Homo sapiens: one gene and its partners. The protein of the gene in region 3 purifies or fractionates together with the protein of the main gene of each other region. This does not show direct contact. Each region holds a gene or a part of one and is shown on either strand. Other genes may lie near its edges.

Evidence for each region.
Region 1: the proteins of CPVL (region 3) and UBP1 purify together in Homo sapiens (affinity purification with mass spectrometry, with the first as the bait; one study listed by BioGRID). This does not show direct contact.
Region 2: the proteins of CPVL (region 3) and ABHD12 purify together in Homo sapiens (affinity purification with mass spectrometry; 2 studies listed by BioGRID and IntAct, with this or other methods). This does not show direct contact.

The regions. Positions count from the first base shown.
Region 1 is NC_000003.12:33,391,863-33,395,512, reverse strand, and holds part of UBP1 (upstream-binding protein 1), read left to right. Parts: intron 1-2,058; coding exon 2,059-2,201; intron 2,202-2,898; coding exon 2,899-2,950; intron 2,951-3,650. UniProt on the Homo sapiens protein: Functions as a transcriptional activator in a promoter context-dependent manner. Modulates the placental expression of CYP11A1. Involved in regulation of the alpha-globin gene in erythroid cells.
Region 2 is NC_000020.11:25,307,198-25,310,847, forward strand, and holds part of ABHD12 (lysophosphatidylserine lipase ABHD12), read right to left. Parts: intron 2,379-3,650; coding exon 2,249-2,378; intron 1,298-2,248; coding exon 1,260-1,297; intron 849-1,259; coding exon 769-848; intron 1-768.
Region 3 is NC_000007.14:29,139,899-29,143,548, reverse strand, and holds part of CPVL (probable serine carboxypeptidase CPVL isoform b precursor), read left to right. Parts: intron 1-3,650. UniProt on the Homo sapiens protein: May be involved in the digestion of phagocytosed particles in the lysosome, participation in an inflammatory protease cascade, and trimming of peptides for antigen presentation.

The DNA of each region.
Region 1 (3,650 bases), on a different chromosome or scaffold from region 3:
TTAGGACAGAGATAATCTTGGCTTCTCCCTCTTCTCACCTCTAAATATGGCCCTTAAAAAAAGCAAGCATTTTAAAAGGCATATATTTTCTCATTTATTGTATGGATATATGGTAACATTTCCTTCTTTCCATACTCTGAAGTAGAACAAAGGCAACATGCTCAGAACTTTAAAAAAAAAAAGATGTGTTAATGGCATTCAGAGATGCAGTTATTTGCCCTAAGAATAGGTAGAGCTCTGAAAAATGTCTTGTGGTTTGAATTTTACTGAAAAATTGGAAGGATAGCATCACTACTGTGAACTTTTCTATTTGGTATTATTTTGACTTCAAAAGCTCTGAATTTTGAGATTAAGTATACAAATTCTTAAAGGATAAAAATTTAAAGGAGATCTCCATGTATCATCAAGAGCTTATACATCACTTAGATATGGCCAAGATTATAATATTTTGGAAGGTGTATTCTCAAACATGAGTGTTTGTGGAGGGATATGGGGAAATATTGGATATTTTCCCATAATCAGCAAACTTTTTCTGTAAAAGGTCAGGTAGTAAATATTTCCATCTCTTTAGATCATACATAGGGTCTCTCACATTCAACTCTGTGATTGTAGTGCTAAAATAGCCATAGACAATATGTAAATTGTAGATAAGGCTGTTCCAGTAAAACTTTATTTAAAAAAAAAAAAAAAAAAAACAAGTGGAGGGCAGGAATTGGCCCATATGGGCTGTGGTTTGGTGACACCTGCTCTAGATCATTTCTATATTCTTACTGTAATTTTAGTTCCAGCTTCTTTTATGTAATGGAAAATTCTGGGTTTCTATACTCACAGACCCCTTGTTTGGGGAAGCAAAGTTCTCAGTAATGATATTCCTGATCCATGTCTGGCTTTAATCAGTAATTGAGCAGGACGTACAAGAGTGAGACTCACTACAGATGTGCACTGTGCAGATGTCTGCTGATAAGTTCTGTGTAGCAAAAATGCAGAACACTGGAATGTGGCTGGGGCTTTCTGTAAGGAAGCATCACACTTCATTGTTTATATTAGCTTTTCATATAGTATCTTTTATTTAAAATTTTTTGTGGGGGAGGGGCATATACAGATAGCTTTTATTCCTTAGGATAAATTCCTAGTAGTAGGATTACTGGATCAAAAACTATAATGCTTAACTGGGCGTGCTGGCTCACGCCTGTAATCCCAGCACTTTGGGAGGCCTAACTGGGCAGACTGCGTGAGCCCAGGAGTTTGAGACAGCTTGGGCAACATGGTGAAACCCTGTCTCTACAAATAATAATAATAATAATAATAATAATAATAATAAAAATTAGCCAGGCATGGTGGCGTGTGCCCCCACCATAGTCCCAGCTACTTAGGAGGCTGAGGTGGGAGGATTGCTTGAGCCTGGGAGGCAGAGGCTACAGTGAGCTGTGATTGTGTCACTGCACTCCAGCCTGGGCAACAAAAAAGGACACTGTCTTAAAAAAATAAACAAAAAGAACTATGACTCTTTTAGGGTTCTTTTTGTATATTGCTAGAAATACATGAAGTATATATTATTTTTAAAAACAGCTTTCTTCAGGCATAATTTACATACCATAAAGTCCTCCCATTGTAAGTATATAATGGTATTTTAGCCAATTTAGAGAGTTTGGCAGCCATTGTCAAAATTCAGTTTGAGTTCCATTATTTCAAGAAGATCCCCCATGTCCATTTGCAGCCAATTCCTGTTTTTAAATTTTGAATACATGAAACTATATTCATTGAATAAAAATATGAAGAAAAATTCAAACCTCAAATCTTTTTGTCCAGGGATTTCTGTTAATGTTTATTAAATTATATTTGTGGATATAAATAATGTATTCTTACGTTTTAGATTGGTAGTTCAAGATTTCAAGGTAGTAAGATGGGGGAAAGAAATAGTTTATTCCCATTTAAAATGTTTTTTTACTTTTTTGGTACTTTGAAAGGTGTGACCTTCGTACAGATCCTACAGATCAGGCAGAAAACAGATCAAAGATTACTGTTAAAATGCTTTTCTTTTTTTTTTTTTAATTTCAGTTTATCATGCAATCTACTTGGAAGAAATGATTGCCTCAGAAGTTGCTCGAAAACTTGCGCTGGTGTTTAATATCCCTCTCCACCAAATTAATCAGGTTTACAGACAGGGTCCCACCGGTATTCACATTCTTGTTAGTGATCAGGTAAATCAAATCATTTGTTTTTCCTTTTCAGACTGGTATTTACTTTTATACATGTAATTGTAGAACTGTAGAAAAATTCTGTGACCTCTTTTGAAAATACTTATGAGAATCATTTTCAGAGAGTTGGGAATCACTTTGGAAGAACTTATAACCAAGAGTTTCAGGCATCCTAGTGATAATATGGAATACAAGCCAAGGAAAACTGGCTTAGCCTCCCCCCAGCCCTTTAGGATGCAGCCAATCACTGGGGCACTCTAGGGATAGTGGCAGGCTTTGGCCCTTTTTATGAGGTGAGTCACTGGATGTGTTTTCCTTTTGTCTATTATTTGATGACTAATTTAAAAAAACATGTAAGATATATAATTTTTCCCCTAGTGATTGGTGGCAAGTAATAATAGAAGAGCACTTTATGCAATTTTTGTTCGAGTCATCATCCACTGGAGCCGGCAGGGAATGTGCCCCTGTGGGTCACATGGGTGACTGACCAGGTCTCTCAGGGACCATTATGGACAGGCATAGTGAACACAAGGCAGTGCAGCACGTGTGCATCTTTGCTGCCTCACACTGCCTTCATGAATTATCGTTTTGGCCATTGAGTCCTGTGTTTGTTTGAGAAGAATATTTACTGTTTTAAAATCATTTTAAGAAACGACAGTTGGATCTTAATTGTACTTACGCATTTACTTTATCCTTCCAGATGGTTCAGAATTTTCAAGATGAGAGTTGTTTTTTATTCTCCACAGTAAAAGGTACTTTGCATGTGTGTGTGTCTTAAAATGCTGGAATCATGAGAGATGGTGTGTGCCTCTAATTAGTGCCTCTCGTGTTTATTCTTTAAAATGATTGCTTTACTCATTTTAAGAAGAAAGTTTGATAAATGAGAATATTTCTAGTGGTTGTAACAGAAATTAGCATATAAGGAAGAGGAGTCAGTCTTTCTAGATGACTGGAAAAAAAAATCTCAATTCATTCAGCCAACGTCTTACTGAGCACTTTGTGTCAGACACCGTGCTTCTGTCGCTCAGTGGATCTATTGAATAAAACAGAATCCATGAAACTCCTATTGGGGAAAGCAAACCAAAATTGGCCAAGAGATACACAAAATTCCCAATATGTTAAGTTCCATGAAGGAACAGGAAAGTGTGGGGGTACTTATGGATAAGGGAGATCTGGGTTGAGGGGAATATGAAACTGTAAGGCAAGGCTTCTCTGAGGAGGTGTTATTAATCCTGAGACTTGAAGAATGAGAAGAAGCGGGAGCTGGCCATTGGATTAGCATCCCCAGGCAACGTGGGGCTGTGTGCAAAGAAAACACCTGGCTTCTTGGAAAGCCTGGCAGTGGGCCATGTAGGTGCCATGCAGTGTGTGAGGGTGAGCGGATCAGGGCAAATCAAAGCAGGAGGCCGGGTCTGGCATGCGGGGACCGGATGATGATGGTAGTTCGGATTT
Region 2 (3,650 bases), on a different chromosome or scaffold from region 3:
CCAGCCAGGCCAGAATCCACCCCAGAAACCAGTCTTCCCGCAGACACCAGGGCCGCCACCCCTGAGAAAGTGGGGTCTATGGACAGTTTCCTCACACAATTTAAGAAAAGCAGCACCAAAAAGTAAGATAAGATAAAAGGCTCTTCTGGTTGGTAACAGAACAGCATGAGGCCAGCATGGGCTGACACAGGCCCGAGAATCCATGGCCAGTGGGGAGCACAGGGATCACAAACCAGAGTGAGAAGGAGGGGAAAATAACTGGCTAGGTTTTAAGGGAAGGTCCAAGGTTCCATTCCCAGCTGGGGAGGGCACAGGTTGGGTGGGGCCTGGCTTACCCAGAATTCCCACTGGGGTTCACCTGGGCCTTTCCCCAAGATAAAACTGGAAGGCCAGACTCCCTGGTCCACACAGTCCAGCCCCCCAAGCACTGTCTCATACACAGAGAGGGGGGCACCCCCAGCTCCACTCCTGAACAGGAAGGCAGGGCTGTCAATACAATGCAGTCGATGACACCACGTGAGCCCGGCCTCCACTGTGTCCAGCTGCCCTCAAATGACCCAATTATGACCTGTCATTTCACCTGGCTGCAGGTTATACTTCTTGGGCAGCTCTGTGGCCAAAACTAGTATTAATTTTTAATGAAATCTGTATTCATTAGAATATTTAAATAACAATTTTTAATAATTATTATAATGTATCCTGTAATTAGTTATTTCTATAATTTATCTTAATAATGAAAAGTTAATTTTTAATAAAATCTGTACTTGCCACTGAAAATGGATGGCTCTTAGCTTCTTCGCGGATATTAGTGAATGGAGATTCCAATATAAGGGCATCTGGAGGCGTCTCTAGATAAACAAACAGGGAACTGAGAGGTAGGCAGGAAGCCAGCGACATACATGTGGCCTGTGGGGCTCTGAGGGGCCCCCAGAAAGCACAAGGAGACCACAGCGCCTCCCACCAGGCAACCACCTCGGCAGGCCTCAGATAGCACCAGGGGTGCCCGCCAGGGGAACAGAGATGGCTCTGGTCACTCCTAAAAAGCAGACTTGCTGATGCGGCTCTGGGGCCAGACCTGTGTGTGTGAGGCTCCCCAGCTCCTCAGGTGTATCATGGGAAGGGTGGCTGGTCAGCCCCGGGCCCCCCAGAATGTGCAGCTCATGCTGCTCCATGAGGACGCTGAGCACTTGCAGCAGGGCCGGGACTGGGGAGCACCCTGAATGCTCACTGCCACGGCTGGGGCCCAACAAGGCACTCACCTCGCTCACAGAGGCGCCGCACCAGATTTGTCGCCACGCTAGGAAAAAAGAAAAACAGCTTAGTTGAGTTATGATAAAATTGTTTGAGATGATATGGGCCTTATGCTGGAAAGTGCTCAGAGGAGCCATGGGGTCTGTGAAGCTACTGGAGTTTCAGGACAGAGTGGGGGAAATGGAGATCCCTCTAGCACTGGGGGTGACCTGGCTGCCCCACCATCAGCTGACCCCTGCAATGAGGGCTGTACCCACAGCCAGTCAGCTTGTCCCCGAGGTGTGTCCTGCTGCCTCTCACTGCCCGTACACTCCCATTGGCCGGGCCGCCTGTCGGCTGGGGGTGGCCAGCGTCTGCCTGCACCTCTCCTGGAGCCCACCACACCCAGGGCCTCTTGCCATCCCAGGACCACACCTGGTGGACCACGCAGACGGCCAAAGGGATGGCTGGTGCCCCCCACCCACTCCTCTCCTGATGCTTCCCAGCCTACAAGAGGCCATTCAGGTGTTGGGAGAAGGGCTGCCCCGAAGGGAAAGGCAGCAGAAAGGGAATGGCAGTGAAGGTCTGGGGACTGGGGCCCTGAGAGCAGAGGTTCCCGCAGAGACGTGGACCTCGCATCAGCAGAGATGACTCAGGCTGCCCACAAAGGGAGTGTGGAAGTACCTCCTGTCCTGGCCTCTGTGAGAAGCAAACCACCCACTGTGCCCTCCCTCAGCTCTGAAGACGCTTCTTCCTCAGAGCCAAGTCTCCCTAGGGAGACCCCTCGACCTCCACTGCCTATGTCTGTCCTGAGCCACTTCCTGGACGAGGAGCTCAGATCCTTTGGAGTCTCTTTGTAACTTCCCCTCCTGCCTCTGCCATGGGGATGGGAGCGAGGCTGGTCGGGACTAATGGTGCCACAGGGTTTGCAGGGATGGTGGACTCTCTAGATCCAGGCATGGGAGTCACCAGGAATACTGACTCCCACTAAAGGCTGCCTCCTGCTGGGGTCCCTTACCCAGTGCCCAGAGAGTGGCCCCAGATGTACACGGGGTTGTCACCACTTCTTGCTTTGATCCAGTCAAAAACGTGGAGTGCGTCATAGGTCATGCCCCGCTCAGATGGCGTTCCCACTGAGTCACCCCAACCTGGGAGGGAGAAACGGCAGGACGGGGAGGTCAAAGGCAGCTCACAAAACCTGGACAAACACACCTCCCCAAGGGGGCCCAGGGCCAGGAGGAGACAGGGAGGGGCCCGCTTGGCCCACCCTTCCAGAGTCCACAGACCCACCCAGGCCACTGGGCAGAGCAAGCAGTGGGGAGAACGGGCACAACCCCACATCCCCACCAGCCCTGGGGAAGGCAGCCCAGCAGCAACCCTGCCCTGCCCCTGCTGACTGCACAAACCAGACATCCCCTCACAGGGTCACTCTAAGTTGGTGAGCTGCACATTTGAATGGCAACTAACAGCAAGCTGAGTTAACAGAACAGATCACAGAGCTTCAGAGCTGGCACCGGCATCCTCAGGCCAGGGCTGGGACTTGCCCCACCCTCTTGGGCAGGGGAGTGAGCTCACTTCTCCCTCTCTCTTTCTTAACAGGCAAGCTAGTGAGGTCTAAGGCAGTGAAAGCCTCTGCCACCACCATCCTCAGCTCTACACTTCTCCCCCATCCCCCAGCAGCATCCATGTGTCCCACTCCGAGCCCTGACGAGCAGCAGTGCAGATGGCGTGGTCAGATGAGCAGCCCCCGGGGCCGCTGGCTGGACACCAACCTCCTCAACGCCGAAGGCTTGGTCAGGGGCAGGACAGGGAGTGGAGTCCGGAGGCTCCCAGAACAGGGAGGGCATTTCTGGGTTCAAGGCAACCATGACCCAGGAAGGGGAAAGGGGCTGTTTCCCCTTAGGGTCTAATTAGCATCTTGTTTCCATAACAGAAAACACTACCATCTCTGCCCCCCAAAATTACAACCTCCCAAGGGTCCCTCCCCCAGTCTCCAGCAAAGGTGGAGTGCAATTATCTTTCCAGCAGCCCAGCAGTGAGTCATCATCAGATGATCTGAAAGCACCACAAAGGTCAGAAAGAGCAGGTTGTGCAGTGTAAGCAAACAGTTAGTGCAGAACTTGCTGTTTCCCGACTCAGACACTAGAGGAGGGAGGAGGCCATGCAGAGGGCTAGGGCCAGGCTGGGAGGCAGGGGTATGGGGACATGAGACAGAAAGAAAAGAACAGAGACAGGGACAGGAGACAGAGACAGACAGGAAGACTGAGAGACAGGAACAGAGAGGCACAGAGACAGGCAAGAAGACTGACAGGGACAGACAGACAGGCACAGAGACAGGGACAGGAGGCAGAAGGATGCGGACAAAGAGGCAGATGCAGTGAGAGAGACAGAGGGACAGTCGGAGATGGAGCTGGCAGTCT
Region 3 (3,650 bases):
TTTGTACTGTATGATTCTTGGGAGAGAATGTAACCCAGGTCCCAAGCGATTCATTTTCTCATTTATTTATTCATTTAACTAATTTTTTCCCAGTGTTTGATTATGAAAAGGTTTAAACTTTCAGAAAAGTCAAAAGAATTTTGCAATCTAGAATCTACCTAGATTCTATTATTGATTAGAAGCCAGGGTATTGATTTCAATTGATTAATCAACTGGCATTGATTAGTTCCTACTGTTTGCCTGGAGGTTTGCTCAGCAAAGCTGTAAAAACATAAAAGGCAGGGTAGGGTTAGGGAACAAGGAGAGTTTTGATTTGGCGGAGCATAGGCTAAGAGTTTGTGAAGGAATCATGTAACTTTGGTTTGAAAAGTTATGTTGAAGTTGTATCATGGAGGACATTAAATTTCATCGTAGAAAGTTTATACTTTTTCCTGGTTGCAGGTGGGAGCCATTGAAGGCATGGGAGGAATGGAGTGCCTTGTGTTTTAGAAAGCTCACTGAAGCATCAGTGTTAGGCTAAATTGGAGGGAAAAGGACCGGAAGTCTGAGAGATGTGTTAGGAAGCTTTGTAAATGTCTCGGGGCAAGTAAGGGTTGAACTGTGGATAGAATGGAGAAAAAAGGAAGTAGAATAGCACTTGGTGACAGATTTGACTTGAGGACTTCTGGTTTTAGAACTCAGGCATCTGCAATTATAAGGGAGCATCATTAAGAATCTGGAAGTCGCTGGGCATGGTGGCTCATGCTTGTAATCCCAGCACTTTGGGAGGCTGAGGCGGGCAGATCACCTGAGGTCAGGAGTTTGAGACCAGCCTGGCCAACATGGTGAAACCCTGTGTCTACTAAAAATACAAAAATTAACCAGGCGTGGTGGTGCATGCCTGTAATCCCAACTACTCAGGAGGCTGAGGCGGGAGAATCGCTGCAACCCGGCAGCAGAGGCTCCAGTGAACCGAGATTGCACCACTACACTCCAGCCTGGGCAACAGAGCAAGACTGTGTCTCAAAAAAAAAAAAAAAAGTATCTGGAAGTCATAGAAGGAGGAAGTTTGAGGAGAATGATGACGTCCTGTTATAGAGTCAGTGGGTTTGAGGGGCTGATTGGTTATCCTTTTGGAGGTGACAGCTGACAGTGGTGATACTGTCCTGAAATGCCCAATAGCAATGTCAGGACTGAACAAACATTTGGACTAGTGATTAATACTCAAGGGGTGGTTGAATGGGAATGTACGGAAAGAGAAAAAAGGATAAGATCTTGAAGAAAATCTGAATATATGGAGTCCTTGGAGCAAAAAATAAATACAGGTGTTCAATGATCTGTTAGTATTTTAATGCCTGTTTATCTACAGTGTTACTATAGCTGCAGTTCTCATTAATAATTGACCACAGTTCCTAACTAAAAGACCATATCTGCACTAGTAAAGTGAAGTAAGTCTTTCCTTTTCCCATTCTGGGAAGTTCAGGGGGTAAGGTGAGGCAGAGGAAAGAAGAAGAGAAAGTTAAATAAATTTTTTTATCTAGGACTTTTAGAGCATACAACGCTTTTTCCAGGTAACCCACTTGCAGATCAGAAGCCAGGTAATTTAATGAACTTGTCTATCTTTTCACAAGGCAACAGCTACTTTTTTTTTTTTTGAGATGGTGTCTCACTCTGTTGCCTAGGCTGGAGTGCGGTGGCACAATCTCAGCTCACTGCAACCTCTGCCTCCTGGGTTCAAGTGATTCTCCTGCCTCAGCCTCCTGAGTAGCTGGGACTACAGGCGTGTACCCCCACGCCTGGCTAATTTTTATATGTTTAGTAGAGACAGGGTTTTACCACGTTGGCCAGGATGGTCTCCATCTCCTGACCTCATGATCCGCCTGCCTTAGCTTCCCAAAGTGCTGGGATTACAGGCGTGAGCCACAACGCCCGGCCAAGGTACAGAGTTTTTAAGTGGCAGAAGCCACATTTGAAGCTGTGAAGGCATACTTTGTTTTTTTATTTTTTATTTTTATTTTTTGAAATGGAGTTTCACCCTGTCGCCCAGGCTGGAGTGCAGTGGGGCGATCTTGGCTCACTGCAACCTCCGCCTCCTGGGTAAAAGCGATTCTCTTGCCTCACCTTCCCAAGTAGCTGGGACTACAGGCATGTGCTACCATGCCCAGCTAAGTTTTGTATTTTTAGTAGAGACGGGGTTTCACTATGTTGGCCAGGCTGGTCTCCAACTCCTGACCTCATGATCCGCCCACCTCAGCCTCCCAAATTGTTGGGATTACAGGCATCAGCCACCGTGCCCGGTCTGAGGGCATACTTTAAATCTTTCATGCTATTCCCACCGGACTGCATTGCCTTCCTATATGCTACTGACTGTATGCTAGGTACTGTGTTAGGCGTTTGCACATGTAGGCTCCTTACTGTGGCCCCTCTGTTTTGAGAAGGTGATCAGCAGGGAAGCTCAAAGCACATTGCACAATTGGTTGTTGCACAATTGGCAGGATGTCTGCCCTCTGATTGTGCCTTGTTTTCACCCAACTTCTTGAACTCTACAGGAAGGGCCAGCCTCTCTCAGAAATGCCAGCCCCTAAAGCTGGTACAAAGGTCATGCAACCTTCCTACTTCCCTGAGTTCAACAATCACTTCATTCATTCTCCTTAAGATCATACCTAAAATCCTGGCTTATTTAAGGGTGAAGTGGAGAAAAGCTCTATTTTCACTTATGCATTTGTTTTACCCCATCAATCTTCTGCCTTCCCTCATTGTCCCACAGTTGTGCCTGTCTAAGGTCACTTTTTGCTTTTTTCTTATTTTCCTTCCCTGGGGAGTCTTTGGAGAGAGGGTGCGATAGAATGTGTAGCCTGGAGCAAGATTACCCCCAGTTGACTATGGAAGCCCTGAGAATTATGCTGCTTCCTCAATGCTTTTTTCCCAAAGTTAGAAGTAGCAAGTTGTATAGTGAGTAATAGGATTTGCATTGTGAATGGGGTCTTCCTCCAGTGAGGACTTTACTAAGTGCAGTGTTTATTTGTAGTGGGGCACAGAACTGCATTCCTCATGCTTTATGACAGTATTTAGGGTTTACTGGTTTTCATGCATGTCTCTCTTTGCTAGAATGAGGGCTCCTTGAAGGTGGATACTGTCCCCTTTTCATCTTTAACTACTCCACAAGTTTTAGCAAAGTGTCTCACCCTTTACTGTATGGTTAGAAAATCTCTGAAGAGTTGAGTTCTGTTAAAGGAGAGAAAACTATTTGTATAGAAGAGTGTGGGTAGAAGCCTGTTTGTTTGTTTGTTTGATGTGAGACAGGGTCTTGCCACATTGCGTAGGCTGGTCTTGAACTCCTAGGCTCAAATAATCCTCCTGCCTCGGCCTCCTAAAGTGCCGGGATTACAAGTGTGAGCCACTGTGTCCAGCCGAGGCCTGCATGTTTGAATGGATCAAGAAATGTGATTGTTTAGTGCTGAGGGAGGGTAGGTAGGTTGCAGGGAAAGGCCTGGCTAGGGAAAAGCTCATATGCTCCTAAGTCAAGCAACAAGAAATGTAGAACGTGAAATAAAGATGAAGCCATTCTGAGTCATGTGCAGACCGTGGGAAATATCTCCCTGTATTTGACAAAAGGGGAAATGGCAGCCATAGCTAATTCTGAAGATGAAAAGTGTTCCTGCCTGGGTTAC